2 separate regions of the Homo sapiens genome follow, and region 1 is linked to region 2. Evidence: fine-mapped expression QTL. Tissue or cell type: platelets. Region 2 holds a variant in brackets; the other region holds the start of a gene. All regions are shown on one strand. Distances are between the middles of the regions.

What was found. PIP is the estimated chance that this variant, and not a neighbour inherited with it, causes the effect.
Region 1: it holds the start of TECPR2, and the variant in region 2 is fine-mapped to the expression of TECPR2 in platelets (CEDAR, PIP 0.95).

Annotation. Positions count from the first base shown.
Region 1 is chr14:102,358,302-102,366,400 of GRCh38, forward strand. TECPR2 (tectonin beta-propeller repeat containing 2) reads left to right here and starts at 4,640. Exons shown (of 20, transcript NM_014844.5): 1 at 4,640-4,815. It overlaps CINP (cyclin dependent kinase 2 interacting protein), which reads right to left and starts at 4,589. Exons shown (of 5, transcript NM_032630.3): 1 at 4,544-4,589; 2 at 1,118-1,286. The coding sequence starts at 4,550. It overlaps LOC124903427 (small nucleolar RNA U13), which reads right to left and starts at 601; the gene lies at 498-601. RefSeq lists silencers at 4,634-5,043, 5,084-5,173.
Region 2 is chr14:101,543,885-101,551,983 of GRCh38, forward strand. It overlaps LOC105370673 (a long non-coding RNA gene), which reads right to left and starts at 1,782. Exons shown (of 7, transcript XR_944222.2): 1 at 1,230-1,782; 2 at 1-116. It overlaps LOC105370674 (a long non-coding RNA gene), which reads left to right and starts at 1,978. Exons shown (of 3, transcript XR_944224.1): 1 at 1,978-2,063; 2 at 2,576-2,776; 3 at 3,194-4,080. The variant T/TC (reference allele first, on the strand shown) is at 4,066.

The DNA of each region.
Region 1 (8,099 bases), 810 kb after region 2:
TGGGTAAACACTATTAAACAGCAATGAGAAAGAACAGAACCAGAATAGTGGCTCTACATTACACGCATGGCTTCCATGTTGAAAGACAGTGAGACATGGCTGGGCGCAGTGGCTCATGCCTGTAATACCGGCATTTAGGGAGGCCAAGGTGGGCAGATCACTTGAGGTCAGGAGTTTGAGACTAGCCTGGCCAACATGGTGAAACTCTGTCTCTACTAAACATACAAAAATTAGCCGGGCATGGTGGCAGGTATCTGTAATTCTAGCTACTCAGGAGGCTGAGACAGGAGAACCACTTGAACCTGACAGGCAGAAGTTAGAGTGAGCCAAGATCACGCCATTGCACTCCAGCCTGGGGGATAGAGTGAGACTCGTCTCCAAAAATAAAAAATAAAAAATAGAAAAAGAAAGTGAGATATAAAGGAAACAATAACATATGTTTTTTGTTTACGTAAAATCCAAAAATGGATGAAAAGAATTCATGGTAGTTTTTTCCATATCAGCTAGGTAATGTGCCAACATCATAGCAAAGTTTGAGGAAGGCACAGGTCATACATGAGCATGAAAACCCAATCATTATGCCTATGAACTACAAAAGAATCAAAGAATCTGTGGTTTTAAAAATCAGAATAGCCAGGCACGGTGGCTCACACAGCACTTTGGGAGGCTGAGGCAGGTGGATCACGTAAGGTCAGGAGTTCGAGACCAGCCTAACATGGTGAAAGCCCGTCTCTACTAAAAATACAAAAATTATCTGGGTGTGGTGACGGGCGCCTGTAATCCCAGCTACTCCGGAGGCTGAGGTAGGAGAATTGCTTGAACCCAGGCGGTAGAGGTTGCAGTGAGCTGAGATCGCGCCATCACACTCCAGCCTAGGCAACAGAGTGAGACTTCATCTCCAAAAAAATAAATAAATAAATAACTAAATATATATATATATATATATATATATGGAATATAATTTTGTATTTAAAATGTACAATACAATTTATACTTACACGTATCATCTTACCACTTGCTTTTTTTGCTTAATATTTTATTTTAAAATTTATTCACATTATTTCCCCAGTTATTAAGGGTGAAAAACTTAGAGCATGAAAAACCAATATGTACTTACAATAAACTGATTTTCAAGTTGGCAATATTATTTGCAGTGGTAAAACCTGCATCATTGAGGGTTTCCCACTTCAGGATTAAATTGTGCCAATCAGCCGCATTGTCCTTAATTTTTCTTGCACTGACAGATAAGACAGGTTTTCTGGGCGTTACAGTTCCAAGAGTCTTTGCTGATAGGGTATAAAAGAAACAAAATTATTATCATGGAATATACAATCATAGTTGGAGGGCAAATGTCCTTATAATTTTCAACAGTAAAACTATCTGAAATGCTGTATCAACTGGACAAATAAATGTGGAAACTACAAAGTCTGAATGAATGTGAAAGTTCCTGGAAGAAGACAATATAGAATATTTTTAACATTTTAAAATTCACCAGATAGAGCTGAATCCTCTTCCAGCTTAATGGCTCCACAAAGTTTTTACCTTAAGCCCTTTGTTTTCCAAAGATTGGAAATAAGGTAAAGTTGTGACTGTCTGCTAAAACTCTTCAATGGCTCACGTTCCCTTCCCTACAGGATAATCTAGCCCTGACTCCCGAGTACTTCCACTATCTAGTCTCAGGCACTCTGATACTTTAAATTTGCTCAGAGTAGCGTGGCCCATGAGTGCTAATCATTTCAAGACACTGAGACAACAGAGATGCAGAGTTGATCACGATGCTGCCACTGCCCTTCTTGGTAATCAGGAGGAAGTCCAAAATCCTTCCAGACCTAGCTACCCCTCCACATCATCACGTACATCAACCCACACCTTGGCCCCCCGTCAATATCCAGCGAAAATGAACTACTGGCAGCTCTTGAAAAGCTGAGGTGCCTGCAGGCCTTTACACGTGTTCTCTCTGCAGGAAAGCTCCTTCCTTCCTCAGGCTCACGATGCCCATCCTCCAAGATGCACCCGGATCCCACTGCCTGTAGGAAGCAACCCCCAGACCACCAAGAGCCAACTCAGGTTGTTTGTTCTCCCCGAACCCTCCTGTGCCCTCTTGCCTTCTCTACTTTGAACCCCACAAAGGCTTCTCACTGCCCACAGGATAAAGTCCTCTTGAGGAATCCAGGACACACAACAGCTGGATGGTTTGATGCCTCAAGTCAGAAGACCACACTGCCTGCGTCTGAACCCCAGCTCGCCAGCTGTGAGATCTTGGGCAACTTAATGTACCTTTCAGAGCCTCAACATTTTCATCTGTAAAATGGGAATAAAAATAGTATCTATTTCATAGGATTGCTGAGATTAGATAATATATGTGAAGCTGTGAGGCCTCGCACAAGGCAAAAACCCAGTATCTCACCTGTTAGCTCAAGGGCCTCTACTATCCAAGCTCTGCCCACCACTTCAGCTTCTACCCTTTCCCACTTGCCCTCTGTGCATCAGAGCTGGCTCTGTACAAGTTCTGACTTTGACCTGGAATATTTTTCCTATCTGTGTGTGTCCCCACTCCCCTGCCTCATACTTAGTATCCTCACTTTAAAATATCATCTTGATTTATCATTCATTCTTTACTTAAACAACAAATATTTGCTTACTGCCTACAATACGCCAGGCATGGGGGAATGAAGTGATTGAATGAGACGGACCAGGACCGTTTTCATGGAACTTACTTTCCAAAGGGGAGGCAGATAATAAACAAATGACCACGATCAGTTCAGATCATGATTAAGTGTGTGTGGAAAATAAAACAGGGTCTTGTGTTAGTGTGATCCCCTGAGAAGGTGTCGTTTAGGCTGAGATTTGAATGATGAAAAGCCAGAAATAGGGTAGGTCAGTAGTATGTGCCCTAATTATGATAATGAGGTTGGTGAGTTCAAAAAACAGAAAACAAAACAAAACAAACAAGCAAACAAAAAAACCAGTGTGCTGGAATGAAATAGACAGAAAAGGACTAGTGCGTGAGTAGGTGATCAGACAACTAGAACCTAATAGGCCAAGATAAGAAGTTGGACCGAGGGCAGTGGCTCACGCCTGTAATCCCAGCACTTCAGGAGGCCAAGGCGGGCGGATCACGAGGTCAGGAGATCGAGACCATCCTGGCTAACACAGTGAAACCTCATCTCTACTAAAAAAATACAAAAAATCAGCCGGGCGTGGTGGCGGGCGCCTGTAGTCCCAGCTACTCAGGAGGCTGAGGCAGGAGAATGGCGTGAACCCGGGAGGCGGAACTTGCAGTGAGCCCAGATCGCGCCACTGCACTCCAGCCTGGGTGACAGAGCGAGACTCCGTCTCAAAAACAAAACAAAACAAAACAAAACAAAACAAAATAAAAAAATGAAGTTTGGACTTCTAAGTATTAGCTTGGTGCAAAAGTAACAGATTTTGCCATTACTTTTAACAGCCAAAATTGCCATTACTTTTGCACCAACCTAATACAATGGGGAGTGAGCAATGAGCTCTGGATAGGGCAGTGAAATTATCTGATTTAGGTTTTTAGAAAGTCATTTCCACAGAGAAGTATTCCTGGATCCCCCAGGTTGGGTTACGACTCACCACTAGATATGTGGTACACCCTATAATTCTGCTATCATGATATTCACCAGTGGAGTGTATTTGCTTGTTTAATGTCTATATTCCCTGCTAAACTGGAAATTCGACTAGGGTAGGAACTATGTCTCGTTCTCTTTCAAACCTTCCACACATAGGAGGCTTTGCATAAAATGAGGTAAATGGAGGAATAGCTCTTACCACCTGTTCTATAATTGTCTAAGGGTTTTCCCCCCAACAGGAGATTCTGAGGGCAGGATCACATCTGATTCATGGTCAGCCTGACTCATACGGGGCACATATTTAGGAACCAAAAACATAACTGACTTCAAGAAACTCAAGGGCTGGTAAAGACAGACCAGTCATCAGCGTCACAGGACAGGGTAGGGTGAGGGCACAGTGGCTAAGTTACTTATCCCCTCTGAGCCTCGATTCCCCATCTGCAAAATGGGGTTGACATTACTTCATGGGACCACTGTGAGGTTCAAATGAGATGATCCACTTAAAGTGCTTGGAGCAGTACTCAGCAAACTGAGCACTAGGCGAAAGCCAGCTTTCATTACAAGCAGAATGTTCTGACTGAGGGCAGTTCAGAGAGGAGTTTCTGGACGAGATGAGCATGCAAGGCTTGGTACCCAGTGAACTCTGTTAGTACTAATTTATAGTGACAATAATTACAATTTGGATGTCGGATCTGCTGACACTCATTTGCGTATATCGTCCCGTTCATCTGTCACTGCACATGTGAAAAAACGGAGGCTCGGCAAAACTGTCTCCCGAGCAGCTCGCAGAGGCTGCGAGGGGCCTGCGGGCTAGGCTGGGGTAAGACAGAGGACCTCCATTTAACCTCATGTAATCCGGGGAGCTCCTGAGCTTCTGGTCCAACCTGCGGCCTAAGCAGTAACATTCACAGCCACCCCACCCCGGGAAAGGAACCGATCTCACGCACCTTCCATAAGGTCCACAGATATCCGTAGAAGGAGACGCGAAGCCCCGCCCACCCCACCGGAAACGCATTTGCGTCACGTCCGCCCCGCCCGCTGCCACTTGTGGCTCTGCCGCTCTAGCCCCCGGCGGAGCCAGCTGCTGCTCTTCGGTGCTGGCCCCGGTGCCGGCCCCGTTGCCCAGGGAACAGGCTCCCGGCAGCCCCCGCGGCCCGGAGTCCATCCCGCCTCCTCCGGCCCGGCGGGGCCGACGAGTCCGGAGGGGCTGCCGCGGGAGGTGAGTCCGGCGACGCCGCAAGCGGCCCCGACGCCCCCGACGCCCCCGACGCCTGGCCCCGAGCCCCTCCTCGGCCTCCCCCGGGCCACTCTTCCCTTGCCTCAGCCCCGCAGGGTCTCCATGCCCGTCCGCCCCGTCTCCCTCGCCCGCGGTCTCGCCCGCGCGGAGTGGCGGACACTAAATGCCACAACACACGGAGCGCCTGGCTCGCCGCCCGCAGAATCCGGCGGTCCGCAGCGGGGAACAGGGGCCGCCCGCCCCTCCTCAGGCCTCCGCTGCGCGTCCCGCGCCCTCGGCCCCCGGCCCCACCCTGCATCCCGGCTGCCGGTCTGGCCGCGGGCTCTGCTCCTTCGCCTTAAGATTGACGTCGTGTTCTGTCCCCCACTCGCAGCCCGCGTCCCTTACATCCGCCCACCGGCGCCTGGCCCCAGGCCTTGACACTCATCCAGTTGGTGTTCAGTGTTCGATGAGTGGATAAGTGAATGACTCCTTTCCCAATCCTATTTGAAGGCATGGGAGGCAGAATAGGTAGTAAGTGTTAAAGGATGGGGTGTCCTGGAGTCAGAGCCGGGCAGGTCCCAGCGGCCCCTTCCTAGCTCTGTGCTGGGGCAAGTGCCCTACCTCACTCCGCTCCAGTTTCATCACCAGTGGAATGGAGATGAGAATAGTTTCTACCTCTGGCTTGGTAAGAGGATTAAATGGGTCAGTGCATGTAAAGTTAAGCACGGTGCCTGCCGCTGTACATTTCAGTAAAGGGGAGCCCCTGCTGTCATCTGTGCTAGCCTGCGTTCTCGCCCTCTAGTCCCTTCTGATATGTCTCTGACTTCTCATGACTTTAGTTTCTCCTTCTCTACCTCCATTTCTCTTCCCTGCACTTTTTTCTTCCTCTCTTATTGGGATTCAGGAATTTTATTCTGTTCTGTGACTTATGTTCCATGTGTTGGCAGAATGTGGGATACCAGCCTGGGTGCATCCTTTTCTCATCTATTGGAGTGACCAGTTGCACTTGTGGACTGCCTCCTTGCAGCCAAGGTCTTGTAGACAGAGTTCTGGGAAATCTCAAAACGCAAATCCCAGGCATAGGTAGAATCTGGGAATGAAGCCACTGTAGCTCCTTGTGATCACCAGCGATTCCTGGTCTTTTAGGCTGCAGGACTTTGTGTTTTCTCACACCCAGCTATAATGTACCTTGATAAACCTCTGACCTTATTTTTGTTGTTGTTGTTGTTAACCTGACTTACGTCCCATATTGGTGGTTATTTGGCCATCGTGTGCCAGCACTGTGCCAGGCTGGCTCTAGGGATGCTGTGGTGAACCAGACAGACCCTTCCTGAGGTCACTGCCTCAGAAAGATCATGGTCTGGCCCATGAACTTTAAAAGGGAGAACTAAGTGCAGGTGTAGGGGACACACAAATTGAATTTTCAGGACTGCCTTGGAAAACCAGTGGTGGGGAAGATGGAATGAGGATAACCCTCTTCTGAAGGAGTGACTAGGAAGTAGCTTTTGTTAGGCATCAGCTATATTATACCCACGTGTCTTTTTCAATAGAAGACTGGCATCTACTGGATTTTTTTTTCCAATTTTTTCTTAAAGAAGTTACACTTAAGTTTGGGGAGAATTTCATTTCATATTAGCCGCTGTAGGAGTTGAAAAAAATGGCTACTGGAACTTAGTGGGAAGAAAAGGAAGGAAACAGGCATCAGGCAGAGGCAGTTGATTGAACTTGGGAAGATGAGGAATAGATCAGGAAAGGGTTATAATGAAAAGCTTTGGTGTCAAGCACGAAGAGATTTCTAGATTCAGTAATGCACAGAGAGATCAGTAAAATTAGAAGGGAGTAGTTGATGGCTTTGCGAATTGCTAAGGTAGAAGGGAGCTGTTACTCAAGATGCATGTTCAATTTAAAATGAATGTATTCTTTGGACCTGGACATAAGAGTTCTATTGACTTTTTGCCACTATTTTATATTTAGGGCTGTCATACTTGGGTGAATCTAGCACAGTGCTTTGAGAGAGAGATTCATTCAACAAACGTGTATTGAGCATTGATTGTACCATACTCTTTATTGGTCTTTTAAAGCACCACAAAGTATACAGACTAGAAGAACATAGGTGAAGATGAGAAAGAGTCCATTGAAGGGGAGAGAAAACAGATAATGATGGTGCTGTGCGATAACTGCCATCATGGAGTTCTGTGAAAGCAGAGAAAGACCAACCAAGTATCTGAGGGAATTTATGAAGGCTTCCTGGTGGCGGAGGACTAGTTCTTACAGGGCACATGTGGGGGAATAGGGAAGAGTGGAAAGGGACTTTGTTCTGCAGAGACATACAGGTTATGGTGTGTGCAGGGACTGTGATGGAAAGCTGATGGATGCACAAACAAAACGTGGCCTGTCTACACAATGGAAGGCTGTTCAGCAATAAAAAGGAACGAAGTACTGATTTGTGCTACAACATGGAGGAACCTTGAGAACATTAGGCTAAGTGAAAGCAACCAGACACAAAATACCACATATTATATGATTCAATTTTGATGAAATCTCCAGAATAGGCGAACTGTAGACAGAGAGGAGATCAGTGGTTGCCCAGGGCTGAGAGAAGAAGCGTGTAGAGGGGTGATTGCTAAAGGGTAGGGAGTGCACAGTGTGTGGATGGAAGAGTGGCCTGAGATGAAGTTAGATATAGACTGTTTTGTCATAGTGTCTAATTTCCATGCTTGTGTTAGGCTTTAGCTTGTGACCATTGGGTAGCCAATGGGGATGGGAGCAAGGAAGTGACAAAATTTTGTCTGGAAGATAAATGACTGCCTCAGTCTCATTACGTTCCTCCTTAATAATTTAATACTCAAATAATTAATAGATGTCGTAGCCAGATTTCAAACATAGATTCTACAATAGGGATACAAATTGTTGCTTCCTAGGGATTTTGGAGAGAATCCTGAAACCATTAGTGTACCCAGAGCACTCTGATAACATGGTTATTGTACAGCGAAGTGGATGACTTAGACTCTATATTAGTCCTAGCTCCAGTTTGAGAAATCATCCATCTGGGTGGCAGTTGGGTGTTAGTAGTCAGCAGTGAAGGCTAGCTGCCACCTTCCAGGGTTATGAGATTGACAGGGCTAGTGGGGAAAGGAAGCATCGTAACTTGAAGGATGCCATAGGGTGGTGTTTTGTATTTTTTTAACTGAAATAGTCATGACTAAGGAAGCATTATTCATTATATTTTTATTTATTTATTTATTTTTGAGATGAAATATCACTCTGTCACCCAGGCTGGAGTG
Region 2 (8,099 bases):
ATGTTCTCGGCAGCATCGTTCACAACAGCCAAAAGGTGGAAGCGACCCGAGTGTCCCCAACAGGTGAACAGATCAACAAAATGTGGTAAATCCATAAAATGGAATATTATTCAGGCCTGAAAAGGAAGGACATTCTGAGACATGCTGCAACACGGTTGAACCTTGAGGACATCAAGCGAAGTGAAACAGGCGAGTTACTAAAGGACCAATCCTGCAAGATCCCACTGATGAGAAGCACCTGACGTAGTCAGACTCATAGAGACAGGAAACGGAACGGTGCTCGCCGGGGGCTGGGGGAAGGGCAGAAGGGAGAGCTGGTGTTCAATGTTTCAGTCCTTCAGTTTTGTACAATGGAAAGAGTTCTGGAGATTGGTTATCCAATAATGTGAATACCCTTAGCACTACTGAGCTGCTACTTAAAAATGGCTAAGACAGTAGCCAGGCTCAATGCATAATCTGGTCACCCCAGCTACTCAGGAGGCTGAGGCAGAAGGATCTTTGAGCCCAGGAGTTCAAGCCCAGCCTGGGCAACATAGTGCTCATTGTTTTTATCTTAAAAAATGGATAAGACGGTAAATTTTATGTTACATGTATTTTACCACAATTAAAAATTTTAAAAAGGTAGTGGCTTTGAACTGCACTGTCCACTCAAACTAATTTTGTACAGTCAAGGAACTATCAGTTGATCACTGTATTACACCGAAGCTGAAGGGAACCCCATTCCCAAAGCAGGAGAAAGCAGGGCTGCCCAATTTGGAGTGGGGGTGTGTTAGTTCGTTTTGTGTTGCTATGAAGAAATACTGAGGCTGGGTAATTTATCAAGAAAAGAGGTTTATTTGGCTCATGGTTCTGCAGGCTGTACAAGCCTGGCCCCAGCATCTGCTTGGCTTCTGGGGAGGCCTCAGGAGGTTTTTACTCGTGGTGGAAGGCAGAGTGGGGAGCAGGCACACCACACGGTGAGAGAGGGAGCAAGAGAGGAGGAGGGGACGCCCGGCTCTTTTAAACAACTAGGTCTGCCACGAACTGATAGGGTGGGAACTCACTTATGACCGTGGAGAGGACGCCAAGCCTTTCGTGCGGGATCCACCCCCATGACCCAAACACCTCCCACCAGGCCCCGCCTCCAACACTGGGGAATCACATTTCAGCATGAGATTTGGAGGGAACACACATCCAAACCATATCAGGATGGGACCTCAGAGCCCACCTTCTCAGCCCCTCACTCTTACCTCCGCACCGGGTGACCCTTGGCACTTGGAACTCCCATCTCCACACCTCTCCAGCCCCTTCCAGGCAGGTGGGTCTTTGAATCGAGGGCTCCAAAGGTAGACAGATGCATCCTTTCCTGACTTTCCTGGCCAGAGTTGGAGGAGCCCTTTGTTCTCCCCTGGAGGTTTCCGAGGGATGAGGTCTGGCCCACAGAGCCAAGAGGTATGGGTACAGGGGAGATGAGGCAGATGGGGCAGTAGGTGGGACTCACCTGAAGGGGCAGCCGGGGCTAAGGGAGCACATGGGCAGCCTCTAGGGGCCCATCTTTCTGCAAAATTCAAAACTCCTAGAAGGGAAACCCCGCCTCCTCCTCTACAGCCATTTCCAGGGATTCCAAGGTCGTTCATTTAAGTGTAAGAAAAGTCCTGGTGGAAAATATTTGTTGTTACAAATGGAATGTTTCCATTTGGTTTCATTAAGTCCACCCCCTCCACCCCACCCCACTCCGGGGAAAGCTGGGGATTGCAAGGAAGAGGAGGGTGGAGGAAGAGGGGTGCTCCCAGTAAAGCCATTTCACCCGGAGAATTCAATCTGGAGAGGAACCAACGTGCAAGAGTGCCTCTGTCGCCATGCCCTTATGTGTGTGATGTCATCCGAGCCTCATTCTGCAAGGAGGACTGTCACCCCCATGTCACAGAAGAGGCATCAGGGCCACTGAGCCATTACTGACTTCCCCAGCATCCCACAGTTACGTGGCACGCCCAGCACTCAAACACACAGACACATCCCTCTGTGACTCCAGAGCACCACAGGCCCTAAAAAGCAGTCTCCACGCCGCGGCTCGCCAACCTCTGGTTAGTAACCACTTGATCATTCTGCAAACAGCTGATCAACTTCTCTATCTGGATCTATTTTAACTAGGATACATTTTGGCTACTGTAAGAAATGCCAAAATAACAGGATTAAACAGGACAGCGCCCCCCCACCCCCACCCCGCCCGCCCCCCGCATAGCAGGCTGAGCTTCAGCAGTCTAAAGCTAGCGTGGTGGTGACACGGGCACACAGGCTTTTTGCAGCTTGTTGCTCTGTGATCCTCAACACCCAGCTTCCCTTCCATAATCCCACGGCTGCCCCACTCCTGCCATCACCTCATTAATCCAACTGTGGGAACAGGGAGAAGAAGCGGGGGAAGGCACCTCTCTTCCCCCTAAGGTCAGGAACCCGAAGTTTCACAGGTCACTTCTTCTGCGTCATTGGCAAGGATTTGGTCAGATAACTACGTGTAGCTGCAAGGGAGGCTAAGAACTTGAATCTTTACATGAGCAGCCACGTGTCCAGCTCAAAGCTGGGATTTCTTTTACTTTAGAAAGAAGAGGAAAACGGATACTGGGGGCAGCCAGCAATCTCTGCCACTGGGACACAGTCTTCACCCCTTTGCCAGGACCATGGTGAGCCAAGGTCATGGGGAAAAGGTAACTGCCATCTGGCGGGGAGAGAGGTGATTGGATGAGGAATCGGAGGAGGCTTCCTGGGAGGTCCGACATTTCGGCTAAGCCTCGAAGGACAGGTAGGGCTTGGGAAGTTGAGATGAAAGGGAGCTCCAAGAGAAGGTGCAAGTAGCCAACTTGTATGGGTGGGAAATTCTAGCTCAGTGAGAGAGCCTGAACTTTGAGCCAGGAGACCCGAGTTCGAGTGCTGATGCACAGCCCACACAGCCGTGCACGGGTTTCCTGAGCCTCAGGTGGCTTCCTCACTAAACGGCTGGGGGTCCTCAGTACGTCCCCTTGCAGGCCTGCTGGGGGGGGCAGGCATGTGGCAGGGCAGCTGTGGCAACATTTCCCTGGGCGGCGGGGGTGTCAGTTCAGTGTCAAGCAGGGACAGGGGCTGGAGCTGAAAAGGGAAGCAGAGACCCCATCTGGAAGCCCTGAAGGCCAGGCCAAGCAGTCTGGATGTTTTTCAAAAGCTGCAGTCCGTTCCATGGTAGGGCAGCCCCGCAAGCAGAGAGCGACTCTAAAACATGAAGACATCTAGAAGACAGAGAGGAGGAGATGAGATCAGAGATGTAGAAACCCAAGAGGAGGCAGCTGCAAAGTTCCCAGGGAGACAGCATGGAGGGGATCAGGCCAGAGCCAAGGAGCCCTTCCATCCCAAGCAGGCAGTCAGGGAAGACTTCCTGGAGGAGGCAGCCCGAAGCTGTCCCAGCCAAAGCAAGAGCTGTTTAGAGCCCAGGGAGTGGGGCTGCGGGGAGGGTTTGCCCTGGAGGGGACCAGCCACAGAAGGAGGGACCAGCCAAAGCCAGGCCATGCCCAGGGACAGACAGGCCCCACCGCTGCCTCGAGATACCCCTACCCCAGCCAATGTGAGCACCTCACGGAGCACAGGCTGCACCTGGCACCACATCCCCATCCCAGTGAATCTTCCCAGTGACGTCACAAGGTGCAGATCCTTGCCCAATTAATGGAAGAAGAAGCTGGAGCCCAGAGAGGGTCGGCCACTTCACTGAGGCCACACAGCAAGGATTTGGGTCCGGCAGTCAGAACCAGTGTACCCAGCACTATTTGACCCTTCCTGGGGCCGGGGGTGTCATTCAGAAACACTCTGACATTATCGTCCTGGTCTCTGGAACAAGAACTGCTCTATCCACATCCCATCCACAGCCATCCCTTACAAGACAGGGACAGAGATGGAGTTACCCCATTGGACAGAAAAACAAACTGAGGCTCCAAGAGGTGAAGTCGCACGCGTGGGTCCGCGGCCCATCGGTGGCCGGCAGGACTTGAGTCCAGGTCCTTCTGACTCCGTGTCCTGATTCTCGGTGATTCTTGCTGAGGCCTTTCTCTCCCCTCCTACCCCTCC[T/TC]CCCCCCCCCCACCATCGCTGTTTTCCTGGCTCCCTCTCAGGGAAAAGAACATGCTCTGAGTCTCTGTTTCCCTGGGAGAAATCCATTTTCAGAATCTGGAGGTGTTGAAATGTGTTCTTTTTTCCTCTCCAAAGAGCCCTTCTTGAGGACAGAGGTGCCCCCGGAATCCCTCCAAGGCCAGCACCGGCCGGGTGGGGGGTGGGGATGCTGCCTGTAGGGGCCAGGTCTCGGAGACCCTTATTCACCCAGGACAAGGAGCAGTGGGGGCACTTCAAGAGCTCAGAGCACACCCTGGCCCCCCAACCCAGGACCACCCGCCCTGGCCTCAGAAGACCCCACTTGCTATCCCTGCCTGGTTCCTGGCAACAGGCTTTGTGGCTCCCAGTAGCAGGGCAGTCACTGAGCCTGCCTGGTGGAGGTGTCCAGGGGAGGGTCCGTGGTCTCCACCAGACTGCCACCCTCCCCATGACAGCTGGGCTCCAATGGTCGCGGTCGCAGAAGTCTCTTGCTGTAAGGAGCCCAGCCCTCTCTGTGAGCATCTCCTAATGCGTGCGGAGCCAGGCCCTGGGGAGCACGGGCTGGTGGGTGCAGGGGCTGCTTGCCACGTGGGGAAGGAAGGAAAGAGGCTGGGAGGGGCAGGTGGGAAGGGGCACAAGTGGATGAGATAGAAGGGGAAGAGGGAAGGGAGGAAGAGACGGGGGAGGGCGGAGGGAAGGGAAGGGAGGAAAAGGCAAGGAAGGAGCTGGAGAGGGAAGAGGAGGCGGGGGGAGGAAAGGGAAGAAAGAAGGAAGAAGCAGGGAGAGAAAGAGAAGAGAGGGAAGGGAGGGGAGGAAAGGATGGGGGAGGGGAGGTGGTGGCTTGGTGTCCGCATACACCATCATCCTTCCTTCAGGCCCTCTCTCCCAGTGCACTCCCCTTACACTTGCCCAGATGCCTCCCTGCCCTTCCTCTTTCAAAATGCGCTCCAGCCTGGGGCCTGGGCAGCACCCCACCTGTCCTGGCCTCTCCACCCAGTGCTTGCATCTCCTGACCACAGCTTCCTGCAGCTGGACTAATCCCTCTCAGGGTTCCAGTCCCTTCCCCCAGGCTGCCCTCAGCTCCTCCAGGTCCCCACTGTACTCACCCCCAGTAGGGACCCCCAGGAGGCCTCGGTTCTCGGGAAGCAGTTCCTGGGTCTCCTAGAACCTATGTTCCAAAATTGTGAACCCGTGGATCCCACAGGCCTGGAAGGCCCATCAAGGCCAACCTACTCAGGACCCACTCCCCAGACCCCCACAGCGTCCCCGAGGAGGGACTCCCGGCCTCCATGTTCCGAAAGGAACGGACAGAGCTGGAGCTCAGGCACAGCGAGTCCATCGCCCCCAAGACTGCATCTCCGGGGACAGCCCCGAGCGCCCGGCACCTGCCTGGGGGATGACACAGGCCCCATCTGCCTAAGCGTGGTGCCCAGACCCTGGGACTGCAGCCTTTCCCATCCACGTGGGACATGTCCCAGCAAGCGGCAGCCTCCTCGTCCTTCAGGGTAAGTTCTCCAGGGCTCTCCAAGAGATTCTCCCTCAAATGCGCCACGTCCCTTCCCTCCTGAGGGACTTCCATGCTCCTGGCCTCCCAGCAGGTCTCCCTGAGAAAGCTCCTGGCCACCCTGAGATGCCGGGATTTTATCTCCAGGGCAACAGGAATCACTAGAGGACCTGAGGCGACAGCACCGTGGGAGAGATTTGGTTTGTGAGGCGAGGGAGGTTGTCACTAGAGACTGGGTCCGTGCCCGTGCTAGGGTCCCACACGCTGCTCCAGCTTGGCTCACAGCACTCCGGCCCAGCCACCGAGGACACCAGGGGACCCAGGGCCAGGATGTCCATGGTGGCCTCAGGGAGCCCCACTGCAGGTGGTCATGAGGCTATTCTGCCGCCCCCCACCCCACCCCCAGTGCGAACCCACAGAACCCTCTACATCCCCAAATGCATCACACTGAAACTCCAGCAGAGTGATTGCTGTACGGGTCATAAAACTACCTGTAGGAAGCAAGTCCCTGCAGAAGCCCCCAGTATCATCATCCTGTGCTGCTGGCCACAGGGGAGAGAATCAGGACCAGGCTGTGCACGGGTTTATAAGGACAGCCACACAGTCTTCTATGGGTTACAGCCCCACCTCCTCCCGGACCCTCAGTCAGTGCTCTGGGGCCAGCATCCAAGCCAGCCAGTCATTCCAGCACTCACCTCCCAGACCAATAGCCCACAGAATAGGCTCTAGTCTGGGTCATCAGAAAAGTGAAAGTGCTGCAGATGCCAAATGGATGGATGGATGGACCGGTGGGTGGATGCAAAGATGGATGGATGGATGGATGGATGGATGGATGGATGGATGGATGGACAGGTGGACGCAAAGACAAATGGATGGATGAATGGATGGATGGATGTACTGGTGGGTGGATGCAAAGATGGATGGATGGATGGATGGATGGATGGATGGATGGATGGATGGATGGTTGGATGAATGGACAGGTGGATGCAAAGACAAATGGATGGATGAATGGATGGATGGATGGACCGGTGGGTGGATGCAAAGATGGATGAATAGATGGATGGATGGATGGATGGATGGATGGATGGATGGATGGATGGACAGGTGGATGCAAAGACAAATGGATGGATGGATGGATGGATGGATGGATGGATGGATGGATGGATGCATGGACAGGTTGGTGGGTGGGTGGATAGATGGATGGATGGATGGATGGACGGATGGATGGATGGATGGATGGATGGACTGGTGGGTGTGTGGGTGCATGGGCGGATGGATGAACTGGTGGGTGGGTGGGTAAGTGGATGGGTGGAGGAATGGCCTGAAGGGTGGGTGGGTAGACATGCTATTCTACCTCTCCACCTCCTGGTTGGACTTTGGACACATGCTCCCCTCAAAGAGCCTTCATTCCACAGCTCTGCAAAGGGCACAGAGATCCCTACTGCAGGATTAACATGTGAAAACACACTAAGCTTAATATCTGGCACACAGTAGGGACTTAATTAAAGTTTGAAAACATCCCTGCTACTTCTGCCTGCCAGGCAGAGTAGTCTGTGCCCCCATCACTGTGCTCCTGAAAAATAACTCAGCATGGATTTTCCACAGTCATCCGGGTAACTCCATCTCCAGCATCTTGAACTGCTTAACTGCAACAGGCTCCTGTCCCAAATAAAACCACCCGCCCCTCCCAGGAACAGCCACCCCCTAGGAAGGGAAGGGAGACAAGGCTACAGAGCCCTGCTTCCAAGGGACCCCCTACTCCCACCCCAACCCTTCTGCCCACAGAATTACCCTGCAGACCAGCTCCCAGGCTCTTAGGGTGAGGCCATTAGAATCATGGAAAAGGGTTCACATCACATACCCATCCCCCAACCCTCAATCCCTGCACGCTCCACCCCCCACCTCCACTGAGGGGGGCTTGCAGAAGAGGAAGAGGCAAATAATTAGAGGCAGAGACTAGGCCTGTCCCCTCTTTCTCTCCATGGCTCACTCTCACCCTTACTCTGTCTCTCTACAAAGAGACTGAACCACAGCCCTGGGTGGTACCTTTCAAATCCCAAGTCCAGCCTCTATGGTACAGATGAGGCCACAGAGGCCCAGGGGGGCAGGACAGCACCCAAGTCTCCTGGCAGGACCATGGCCAAGAGGGATGCTGGGTCATTCCCTGGTTTGTCCCATACGTCTGTGCCCTTCGGAACACAAGAGACCTCTAGCCTCCCACCCTGTCCCTGAAGCTGCCTTCCTACGGCTATGGAGTCCACCAGCCTTGGCTGCGGTTGTGGTAAGTGACGTGGCAAGGATCTGTCTTTCCCTCAAGACAGGCCTAGGTCTGGTCCAGCTGGAGCACCCGGATGGTGGGTGACGAGCACATGATCACCATCAGAAGTCCCAGGGTGACGCCCTGGCTCACTCCCTGTGACAGATTGCAAAGAGCCCTAATCTTCACTTCTCCCTGCACCAGACCCTTGGCTGAGCAGCCTCACCGGGCCCTCTGCTCCCATGTGAGTGCTCC